Linked DNA regions of Homo sapiens. The protein of the gene in region 1 purifies or fractionates together with the protein of each later gene. This does not show direct contact. Each region holds a gene or a part of one and is shown in the gene's direction. Other genes may lie near its edges. The genes, in order: SLC37A3, ATRAID and DNAJC19.

The links.
Region 2: the proteins of SLC37A3 (region 1) and ATRAID purify together in Homo sapiens (affinity purification with mass spectrometry; 4 studies listed by BioGRID and IntAct, with this or other methods). This does not show direct contact.
Region 3: the proteins of SLC37A3 (region 1) and DNAJC19 purify together in Homo sapiens (affinity purification with mass spectrometry; 3 studies listed by BioGRID and IntAct, with this or other methods). This does not show direct contact.

The regions. Positions count from the first base shown.
Region 1 is NC_000007.14:140,342,850-140,346,597, reverse strand, and holds part of SLC37A3 (sugar phosphate exchanger 3), read left to right. Parts: intron 1-627; coding exon 628-729; intron 730-1,334; coding exon 1,335-1,382; intron 1,383-3,034; coding exon 3,035-3,186; intron 3,187-3,748. UniProt on the Homo sapiens protein: Unlike the other SLC37 members, lacks glucose-6-phosphate antiporter activity.
Region 2 is NC_000002.12:27,210,191-27,213,938, forward strand, and holds the start of ATRAID (all-trans retinoic acid-induced differentiation factor isoform c precursor), read left to right. Parts: upstream 1-1,850; 5' UTR 1,851-2,178; coding exon 2,179-2,277; exon of another isoform or gene 2,278-2,417; intron 2,418-2,438; exon of another isoform or gene 2,439-2,597; intron 2,598-2,986; coding exon 2,987-3,108; intron 3,109-3,748. UniProt on the Homo sapiens protein: Promotes osteoblast cell differentiation and terminal mineralization. Plays a role in inducing the cell cycle arrest via inhibiting CCND1 expression in all-trans-retinoic acid (ATRA) signal pathway.
Region 3 is NC_000003.12:180,988,065-180,991,812, reverse strand, and holds the start of DNAJC19 (mitochondrial import inner membrane translocase subunit TIM14), read left to right. Parts: upstream 1-2,076; 5' UTR 2,077-2,210; coding exon 2,211-2,213; exon of another isoform or gene 2,214-2,481; intron 2,482-3,583; coding exon 3,584-3,635; intron 3,636-3,716; coding exon 3,717-3,748. UniProt on the Homo sapiens protein: Mitochondrial co-chaperone which forms a complex with prohibitins to regulate cardiolipin remodeling.

The DNA.
Region 1 (3,748 bases):
TATCTTTCAAATTAAAAAGAAAAATCAAAAATAGCATTCACAACTTGTTTTTGTAAGGGATAGCCGATGGCTTTGACAGTTTTTCCTTTTTTCATGTTTTGCTGTCTGATTTGTGGTCTCCTGTCCCCACTGGTCATCATGGTGATTTAACAGACAGTTTATTCCTAAAAGGAAGTTATGGAGGACCCCTTTTCAGGGAGTCAGACCTATTTTTTTTTGAGACAGAGTCTCGCTCTGTCACCCAGGCTGGAGTGCAGTGGCGCAATCTCGGCTCACTGCAAGCTCCGCCTCCCAGGTTCACACCATTCTCCTGCCTCAGCCTCCTGAGTAGCTGGGACTACAGGTGCCCGCCACCACGCCCGGCTAATTTTTTTGTATTTTTAGTAGAGACAGGGTTTCACTGTGTTAGCCAGGATGGTCTCCATCTCCTGACCTTGTGATCCACCTGCCTCAGCCTCCCAAAGAGCTGGGATTACAGGTGTGAGCCACCGAGCCCGGCCCAGCCATATTTTTTGATAGACTAGTGTCAGGCTGCTGCTAGTGAGACTAGAGGGCAAATGGGGAGCACGCCTCAGGTGAGCGAGCTAAATTAGAAGTGATTTTGATTGCTCGACACTCTGCTTGAAGGTGGAACTTTGCAAGGCTTCATCTCTGATGTACTACAGAAGAGAGCGCCGGTTCTTGCCCTGAGTCTGCTTCTGGCAGTTGGGTCCCTCATCGGGTATAGTCGTGAGTATTCTTTTGCAATTACTAATTCCTTTGCTCCCCTAATCTGGTTGGAATAAGGCATTTGTTTGGAGTCAGTGACCAGTGCTGGGGAGAGCCTGGAGACCAGCTTCAAGGCCCGATATGCCACCTTTGCATTGTCCTGTGAATGCCTGGGAAACCTGTCATCACATAGTTTTATTTGTCTTGGGAGGAAACTGGCATCTCTTTTGCTTTGTTAATTTGCTTAAAAGCTTGCTTGGGAGTGTATATGCTTTGTTTGGGGGAGGCTCCAGAGGCACAGCATTATAGCCAATAAAACAATAAAAAGGGAACAGGTTTCAAAAGCGGAAAGATGGTAATTAGTAGGTTTGGTATATTCCCTTAAGATGCTGCTGAGACAGGAGTAGAGCTTTTCTTTAGCTTTTAGAAGTCTTGTTAGCTTGAGCATTAGCAAGAGGCAGACGTTACAAATCAGAGTTGAAAGAGGCAGAGAGAGTTGTGTCTCTTTGTTGTCTCTGGGAGTGATTTGTGAGGTCACGGAGATTCAGATCTTCGCGTACGGTTGGCAGAGGCACGTGGAGTCTGCTTTTCAAGCCACCATGGTTTGTCTGTGTCTTCCCTCACAGGTTCTCCAAATGATAAGTCCATCAATGCCCTTCTGATGACTGTTACAGGTACGGCACATGGCTCTGCTCCACCATGCTTCTGTTGCTCTGTAAATTCAGAGGAAAAGGGAAACTGTTTTCTCCCTCAATTTGAGTAGTACCGAAACCTTAATTACAGAGAATTCAAATTTTAAAAGGAAAAACGCCTCCTTTTCCAGATTCTTTTTCTCTGCTGTTTCTTACATGACCTCCTCAGTCCTATTGTGACAGAAGCGGTCCCTATTGACAGAGATTTTCTACGATTTTTGATTGCTGCCCCAGCTTCTGCTCTTACCTCTAAAAGTGACTTAGAAAAATGCCACATGGGAGACCAATTCACCAGCTTTCAAAAAAATCCACAATAGCTCGTGTCTCCTCCTGTGTTGGAATTGGTCAGCATTTTGTCACTTGAGCACTAGATAAAATAGTTGGGTGCATTTAGGGACTATGTTATAGAAAAATTACTTACTTTATTTATTATTTATTTATTGAGACAGAATCTTGCTCTGTTGCCCAGGCTGGAGTGTAGTGGCACAGTCTCAGCTCACTGCAACCTACACCTCTTGGGTTCAAGTGATTCTCCTGCCTCAGCCTCCTGAGTAGCTGGTAATATAGGCGTGCACCACCACGCCCAGCTAATTTTTGTATTTTTAGTAGAGACATGGTTTCACCATGTTGCCCAGGCTGGTCTCAAACTCCTGACCTCAGGTGATCCACCTGCCTTGGCCTCCCAAAATGCTGGGATTACAGGCGTGAGCCACCATCCCCAGCCAGAAAAATTACTTATTTTAAACTTTCTAATTTTATTTTTATTTTTGAGAAGGAGTCTCGCTCTTGTCACCCAGATGGGAGTGCAGTGGTGCGATCTCAGCTAACTGCAACCTCCACCTCCTGGGTTCAAGTGATTCTTCTGCCTCAGCTTCCCAAGTAGTTGGGATTACAGGCGCCTGCTACCATGCCCAGCTAATTTTTGTATTTTTAGTAGAGACAGCGTTTCACCATGTTGCCCAGGCTGGTCTCGAACTCCTGACTTCAGGTGATCTGCCCACCTCAGCCTCTCAAAGTGCTGAGATTACAGGCATAAGCCACTGCGCCCGGCCAGAAAAGTTACTTATTTTAAACTTTAGATCATGCTTGGGAGAGTGAGCTGCTCATTCTACTTGGGGTACATGGAACTGATTCCAGCAGTGGGACCAGATTCACCTGGGCCATCGCATGCCTGATTCATGGGCAGCCTCACTGAGAGCAGTGGCAGATAGAGTCACCTGCTCCATTGCAGTGGCTTTTTCCTCTTTGCTCTTTTTTTTCAATATTCCTGGTTGAATTTGTGTAGTGGAATGATCATATGATGCAACTACCGTAATAGAATTTATTTGACAAGCTAGTGCAATTAGTTATTAATGAATGTAAACTTCACAGGATTAGAAGGGCTATGTGTTTCACTATTTTTGTATCTTTGGGTTCTACAAAATATACTAGAGTGTCACATAATTCGAGAAGGGATTTCAGGAACGTGGATGTTAACTACTAATAGTTTGAAAATGATACTATCTGGGGGTTTCCTTTTTTTTCCACTTCTCTCCAACATATTAAGAAAACTATTCGGATATTATTTTGCCTTATGCAGTAGATTGCTAGTGGTTGTGAATTGTGTTTTAATAAGAACCTGTTTATGACTTCAGGATTTTTTATTGGTGGACCTTCTAATATGATTAGTTCTGCTATTTCTGCGGACTTGGGTCGCCAGGAGCTCATCCAAAGGAGCAGTGAAGCTTTGGCCACTGTCACAGGAATTGTGGATGGTTCGGGGAGCATTGGAGCTGCAGTGGGCCAGGTGAGAGAACAGGAGAGGGGCTGGGATTCTAGTGTCTTCCCTCAAAGGCGGCTGAATGTGAACCTGCCCTCTGGGCCTCAGTAGGTGGCACTCTTGTGCTGTAGAACGCTGTTCCCAGAGCCCAAGGACTTCCGTCTCCCCTCAGGACCAGCTGATGCGTCCTAATGTAGAAGGACTCTCCATTGTTTTTAGTTCCTTTTTTCTACTTATACTTCTAGATTCTTCCTGTCTGCAAATAAGCTAAGACCTCGTAAGACAGACAGATCCTTCTGCCCCAGCCCACCATCCCCTTCTTTCTTTCCAGGCTGAACTTGGTATTCCGTGGTGGGGGGTGCTTCTTGTTATCCCCACCTGGCATGTGGACCCCACCATTGCTGTCTCCCGTCTCCCTCTCCCAGACACTCTACTGCATACACGTTCCTTCCTGGGCCCCGCCAGACATGGCCATGGACTCTGCAGCTGCTTCTGAATCACTCGCTCTGCTTCCTGTGTATCCAAAAATCTCTGACTGTATCTCAAAGAGTGGCCCATAAGTGTCTGGTATCAGAATCATCTGGGACAC
Region 2 (3,748 bases), on another chromosome or scaffold:
TGCATGATGTATGGAGAATTCCCCTGGATGGCCTGAGAGAGCCCCAGGGAAGACAGGAAAAACCTGACCTAGCAACAGACCAGATTCTGAGAACAGATCTGTAGTTTTCTAAACACCCTACATTGATCCAAACGCTATGGTCTCGCATCTCTCCAGAAAGAGGGCGGCCAAAAGCAAGAGCTAGCTGTTGTTTCACTACAACTATAACATGCCAAGGCACAAACAGCAGATTGTGGGACCCCCCCCCCTTTTTTTTTGGAGACGGAGTCTCGCTCTGTCGCCCAGGCTGGAGTGCAGTGACACGATCTCGGCTCACTGCAACCTCCACCTCCTGGGTTCAAGTGATTCTTCTGCCTCAGCCTCCTGAGTAGCTGGGACTACAGGCATGTGCTACCGCGCCCAGCTAATTTTTTTTTTTTTTTTTTGTATTTTTAGTAGAGACGAGATTTCACCATATTGGCCAGGCTGGTCTCAAAACTCCTGACATGACGATCCACCTGCCTTGGCGGATCGGTGGCCTGGCCACCGCGCCAGGCCAAGTTCAGGTTTTTAAAAGGGGTCCCACATCACTGCCTGTAATCCCAGCACTTTGGGAGGCCGAGGCGGGCAGATCACGAGGTCAGGAGATCGAGACCATCCTGGCTAACACGGTGAAACCCCGTCTCTACTAAAAAATACAAAAAATTAGCCAGGCGTGGTGGCAGGCGCCTGTAGTCCCAGCTACTCGGGAGGTTGAGGCAGGAGAATGGCGTGAACCCGCGAGGCGGAGCTTGCAGTGAGCCGAGATCGCGCCACTGCACTCCAGCCTGGGCGACAGAGCGAGACTCCGTCTCAAAATAAAAATAAAAATAAAAATAAAAACCTGAACTCACTTTGGTCACACACTGCAGTGGATCGCATTGACTCCTACAAAAGGCAATGAGACCACTGCAGGACTAACTGTTCCAAAAAGATTCCCTCAAAATCTGTCCTGGGGCCTATAATTCCTCAAGGTGTGAAAGGCTTTGGGGGCCCTCCTTAAAATGCTAATAGCTACTAACACCTTAGAAAATTTGCCAGCCAGCTAAACGTAAACCTTTCAGGAACTTCCAGGCAGACACCATGGGGGTAATGTGGAAGGGAAGCCTGGCTCGGCTACTCGAGATGATCACTTGGGTCGGCTTTAAGGAGCTTTCTGGCTGGCCCTAACCAACACTGTCGCGCCGGGAGCAGGGATCCCCTGGCGCCCTTCAGTCAGGGCGCTGGCCCACCCTGGGGCAGCAACGCACTCCCTTACCTCCGTGGTTCAGTCAGAGCTAGGAAGGTCCCTTTGTGCTTCCTGAGATCAACATCGCTCCCTTTTCCTGGGAAGGCAAAGAAAATGAGTTAGGGAAGCGTCTATCCCGCTCCTACCTCCTCGCCAGGCTCCGGGACGCTATGCGCTATCAGCATTGAGGTGAAGAGGACTAGGTGCCCGGGGCGATCCAGGCTCGTGTCCTCCCGCTGGAGTTTGAGGTTTGCCCTTCCCTCATCACCCTCACCCTCGTTCTTTCTCGGTTTCCCGCTTCCCTCTACGCGGCGGAGACCACCACCTTACCGCTCGCACTTAAGATCTCAGACCCACGCCGGAGGCCGGCTCGCTCCGCCCCTCCCCGCCCCCTTGTCCCCGCCCCGGCTCAGACGCCGCTCCCCGGTGCCTCTCGGCACCGGCTCACGCTCTCCAGGCCCACCTGCCCGGTCTCCACACGTGGGTAGCCAGAGCCCGGCCGAGAGCCCTGGCCGGGAGCCCGCGGGGGCCCCGCCCCCTGCCCGCCCCCTGCCCGCCCCGCTCGCCGTGCCGCCATGTTTACTGAGGGCGGATGGAGGGGCCCGAGTTTCTGCGAAGCCGCGACCTCGGCGTCCGGACGCGGGGAACACCGGGCTGAGGGAGTCTGCAGTCGGCTCCGGGAAGCCGCGCGGCGACGGGGGAGGCCTTCACTAAAGGGGAAAAGGAAGAGGGGGTCGGCCAGTATCCCCGAAAGAGGGCTAGGGCGCATGAAGACCAGCGCAGAGCTCCACGAGCAGGAAAAGCCCCCAAGCAGCCCCAGGGCGACTGGACCGGGCCGCTTAGGCCACGCCCGGGGAAGAGGGCCTGACGCGCTGCGGGGCGGGGCCGCGGGGCCGGGTCGCGCGAGCAGCGGAGCACCAAGGGAACGGAAAATGGCGCCTCACGACCCGGGTAGTCTTACGACCCTGGTGCCCTGGGCTGCCGCCCTGCTCCTCGCTCTGGGCGTGGAAAGGGCTCTGGCGCTACCCGAGGTACAGAAGCAAGTTTGAGGTCGGGCTGAAGCAGGGTCGCTGGCCAGCCGTGCGTCGCGCTCGCCAGCGGCTCCCCCTTCTCCTCGGCGGGCCTGCGGTTCTGATTTCGTCCCTGACGCTTCCCGACCCTGCCCAGCCAGGTCCTGTTCCCAAGTACTCACGTCGTGCAGGCCTTCGGCGCCCCAGTCCTGCCGACTTTCAAAGACCTGTGAAACTTGATTTCGCCCCTTAATTTTAGAATAACTTTAAGTTCTTTCTACAGACGGGTCCTCTGCCTCTTGTGTAATCTCTCTACGCACGAACGCCATATATCGTGCGGTGGTAGGGCTGTACTTTTGTAATGCTTGATGAGTTCTTTACGTACCTGCGGTCGTTTTACACCGCGCCAAACTAGGGCTGTCAGATTGAGAAGTCTCTGCAGAAAGCATAATAAATAAGTTCGAATAGTGATCTTCAGAGATGAGGACCTTCCCTGTGCGATATCTGGTACTGAAAGTGTCGGGAGCTGATTCGGCGCAGGACTCTGGAGGAAGAGATGGCATCTCCTAGCCTAGCCTGTTACAAGGGTGGGACACGAGCCGTTTATCCATTTATCGGCCCCGTGTTAGAGGAATTCTGGAAACGTGTACTGGCAGTTAATTCTTGATCGCCGTTTGTTCTTTTCTTGGCTTTTCTTTCTGGAGTTCTAATGTTTCTTTCTCTTCTGCAGATATGCACCCAATGTCCAGGGAGCGTGCAAAATTTGTCAAAAGTGGCCTTTTATTGTAAAACGACACGAGAGCTAATGCTGCATGCCCGTTGCTGCCTGAATCAGAAGGGCACCATCTTGGGGTGAGGGGAAGACATCCCTAGATGCTGGATACAGGCCATTCCTTAGCCTGGCTGCTTTTATACCCTTATATTATTTAAAGAATCCACCTATTATGGTTTCAGCTGTAATCATCACGCAGATGTCTACCAAAACTAGATCTCTTTAGTGTCTTTTTTAACCTTTCCACACTCCAGGTACATACGGGTACCTCTAGCTTCCTATTAAGCATTTCCTACTGAGTGCACCCTAACTTCAAACTCAAAATGTTATGTTTTGCTTCCATTCTCTTCTTTCCTTCATCTACCTAAATACTTCTCTGTATTAAGCTTTTAGAAAACCAACATTTTCCATTATCACTCTCTTGCTTTAATACTATATTTAGTATTAAATTTTGTCTCAGGACAAAATTCAAACCATTAAGTACCATACTAGTCCCAACCCACTTTTCCAACATTATTTCCAATTACTTGTCCGCTCAAACCTCCATAATGGTCTGCACCAGCCAGATTTGCCTGCCCTCAAAGGCATTCCACCTTTGTTCAGGCCTCTCTCCATACCTGAAATTGCCTTCCTCTACCAAATTAGGAAATATCCATCCTTCAATTCCAACATCTTTTGTGAATATTTACTACTACTAAGTTCCAGAGTAATACCTTTTTT
Region 3 (3,748 bases), on another chromosome or scaffold:
GGATGAGAAACTAAGAAGATGTGCTTGAGTCCTTTCTCATTCTTTTGTCCCTACCCCCTCTTTTGTCTTTTATTACTTTCTATAGTAAACTAAATAATGTGTTCCAAAGATTTCAGGTCCTAATACTTGGAACCTGTGAATGTTACCTTATATGGCAAAGTGTTGGAAACTATGATTAAGTTAAGGATCTTAAGAAGGGGAGATTATCCTGGATTATCTGGGTAGCTGGTAAATGCAATTACATATATCCTTTAAGAGGAAACCAGAAGGAGATTTTACAAACAGAAGAGAAGGACAATGTGAAGATGGAAAAGTTGGAGCAGAGTGAGATTTCAAGATGCTGGCTTACAAGACTGCAGTGATTCAGTCACAAGTCAAGGAATGCTGGCAGTCACCAGAAGCTAGAAGAAATGAGGAATGATTATCCATTCATCAGTCAGTGGACATTTAAAAAGATTACTTTTCAAGGCTGTTTCTAGGATCTTGGCAGGTAGGTAAGAGGCAACCAGACTTAAGATTCATGAGTGAGGTATCATGAGAATGAGGAAGGCTTCTACACTCCAATTTGCACTCTGGCTTCCCTCATAATAATAGCCCCACACTGAGTGATGACCATAAGCAGAACACAATATGTGCATAATCTCTACGTTCACAAAAACTCGGCAAGGTAGTTATCATTACCTTCATTTTACAAATGAGGAAGAAACTCAATCAGAAATAACTTTTCCAAGTCACAGTATTAGTAAGTGACAGAGCCAGGTTACCTCCAGTTTGATCTGCCACCAAAAAAAGAGCTATCTCCAGCTCAACAAAATGTCTTGCTGTGTTGCTACTCCCAATTTCCTGAGTCTGGGTTTTGTAAAGTCTCAAAGCTAATTAGAGTCTACTGTAAATCTATTCCTCCAGAAACTGCATTACACAGTTTGTACATACCAAAAATATGCATAATAAATTTTTCCAGATAGCATTCTAGCTTGTTGATGCCAATTTGGTCCCAAGGTCTTATGCCTCACTTGATTATTTATTTTGTAATTGTTGGGTAAAAACCAGATAAAAGAGAGGCAAAAGAGGAAGTTATAAACTTAATGCTAGTGTCTTAGTGCTGGATGTCACCTTAAATCATGTGTTGACAATAAATTACATCACAAAAACCTTAGCGCTAGAAGAGCTCTTGGATTATCAAATGCAAACTGCTTTTACAGATGAGGAAAACAAACCCAAAAATTTTGCATATTTGTTTAATAACTAACAAACTCATCAAAGCAGAATTGCATTGCAATGTAAACGGATATTTAACACTGTAAATTCTGAGTGGGAAGTAACTCCAAACTTATTTTGATCATGCAAACGTTGCATTGTAAAATTCCATTATTGTCTCCATTATTTTTTTCTTCTCAAGCATTTATGTAGGGATGTATGAAACTGATGTCCACGTAAGGGCAAAATCCAGCCCTACTTTTTATTTTGGGTGAGGAGGAAAACTTTTAAATAGCCCTTTTCAGTTGTAGGATCTTGACATTCCATGTTCAGAATATGAACTGTCTTTAATCCCATTCTACAAAACGAAAACCCAAATATTCACAAAGTCTTGTCAAGTCACATCCTTAAATGAAGTTCTTTTACATTAAAAAATGCTACCGAGCAATCCCTGAAACACAGTGTGGTTGGTTTCATTTGTTTTTCTGGGCATCTCGTTTCCTACACTGGGTTACAACATATTTGTTTGGGTTCGTGGTGGAAATGTCACAGCATGTTTAACTACATTCATTACCCTTGACAATTATTAACATAAAATAAAGGCAAAACGAGGTGCTAAGATGTAGGGGGAAAAAATCGGTCTGAGTAAGGCTGCCCATGCCCTTCCCTGCAAGAATTTCCAAATACCCACCGCCCAGGAGCAAAGGACAGAAAACACAGAGAAGCCCCACCCCTACACCCAGAAATAAAGAGATCCGCCCACCCTTCAACCAACCCGAAGTCGCTTTCTCCGCTCTGTCCACTGCTTGAGCGACTTTCCTTCTCCTCCGCGTCCCCTTTTACGACAGTTTTCCGGCCTAGTTTGCGGCTGCTCCTGCCGTGTTGCGTAGGGCGCCTGTGCTTGAGGTTGGGGGTTGCGTCGCTCTCTGGTAAAGGCGTGCAGGTGTTGGCCGCGGCCTCTGAGCTGGGATGAGCCGTGCTCCCGGTGGAAGCAAGGGAGCCCAGCCGGAGCCATGGTGAGTGCGGCCTTCCGGTCTTCTTGGCGACCTCCGGCCCAGGCCTCAACCTCAGCTCCCCGCCTCGGAGGTGTGGAGTTGAAGTTGTGCTCCTTAGTGCGACTGCGGGCGGGAGGTTTCGGTTATTGGGGAGTCACACTCACCAGGACACAACCCTGTTGGCTCGCTCTCTTGGGGGTTTGTGTTTTTACATCGTCTTTCTGCACGGTTCTCCAGCTTCTTGTCCGCACGGGCTCTGCAGGTGTTGCTTGCCTGGAACTCCTGTAAGGTCAGAGGCTGTCATGGACTCGGAGATTAGTGGAAACGTATTTGATTATAAGTGCCCTTGCCCTAACACATCTTCACAGCACTAGCTCCACTTTGCTATGTCCTTCTCTTTGGCTTTTGCTGACAGATGTCTTCTCCATGCTTCCTGAACATATTTGGGCCTGTCTTGTTAGGAAACAACAGGGCAGTGCCAAAGGTATTAGTCTCCTAGTTTAGCCCACGTTTAGCCTCGAAAATGCGTTGTTAGAATTTTACAGGAGCCGTCTGTAAACAGTTTTTCCTTCTGTAGCAGAAACCTTATTTCCACATTTTTTTTTTTTTTTTTGAGACAGAGTCTTGCTCGGTCGCCTAGGCTGGAGTGCAGTGGCACAATCTTGGCTCACTACAAGCTCCGCCTCCCGGGTTCGCCATTCTCCTGCCTCAGCCTCCCAAGTAGCTGGGATTACAGGCGCCCACCACCACGCCCAGCTAATTTTTTTTTTTTTTGTATTTTTAGTAGAGACGGGGTTTCACCATGGTAGCCAGGATGGTCTCGATCTCCCGACCTAGTGATACGCCCGCCTCGCCTCCCAAAATGCTGGAATTACAGGCGTGAGCCACCGCGCCTGGCCTATTTCCACTACTTTTGATTGAACTTTAATGTGACTTAATTTGTCTGGTGATGAAAGAAGTTTTCAAAGGGAGGGAATCATCTTTTTCACTATTGTAAAGATAAATAAGCAAGTCGAACTTGCCCTCTTTCCCATATGATGAATCCTGTAACTTTAATGCATTCAGCATAACAGATGCAGTAGTTTTAAAGATTACTGGACAGAATATTTCCGCCTTAAAAGTTGTTTCTCTGCCAGGCATGGTGGCTTATGCCTATAATCTTAGCACTTTGGGAGGCCAAGGTGGGAGGATTGCTTGAGGCCAGGAGTTCAAGACCAGCCTAAGCAACATAGCAAGACTCCGTCTCTTAAAAAAAAAAAAAAAAAAAGAAAAAAAAAAGTTGTTTCTCCTATTAAAATGCAGTTTGTAATGAGTTGGGGATGGAAGAATGGGCAAAATGAGAAAGGGTGGGAATTAGAGAAGTAAATATTTACTCTTCTCCCCCTTACCAGGCCAGTACAGTGGTAGCAGTTGGACTGACCATTGCTGCTGCAGGATTTGCAGGTTTGTTTATGGTTTGGGGATGGAAGTGAAGTCGGGGAGATTGGAGATTTAGTTTACTTATTCTGTTGCTTTTGGTTTTAGGCCGTTACGTTTTGCAAGCCATGAAGCATATG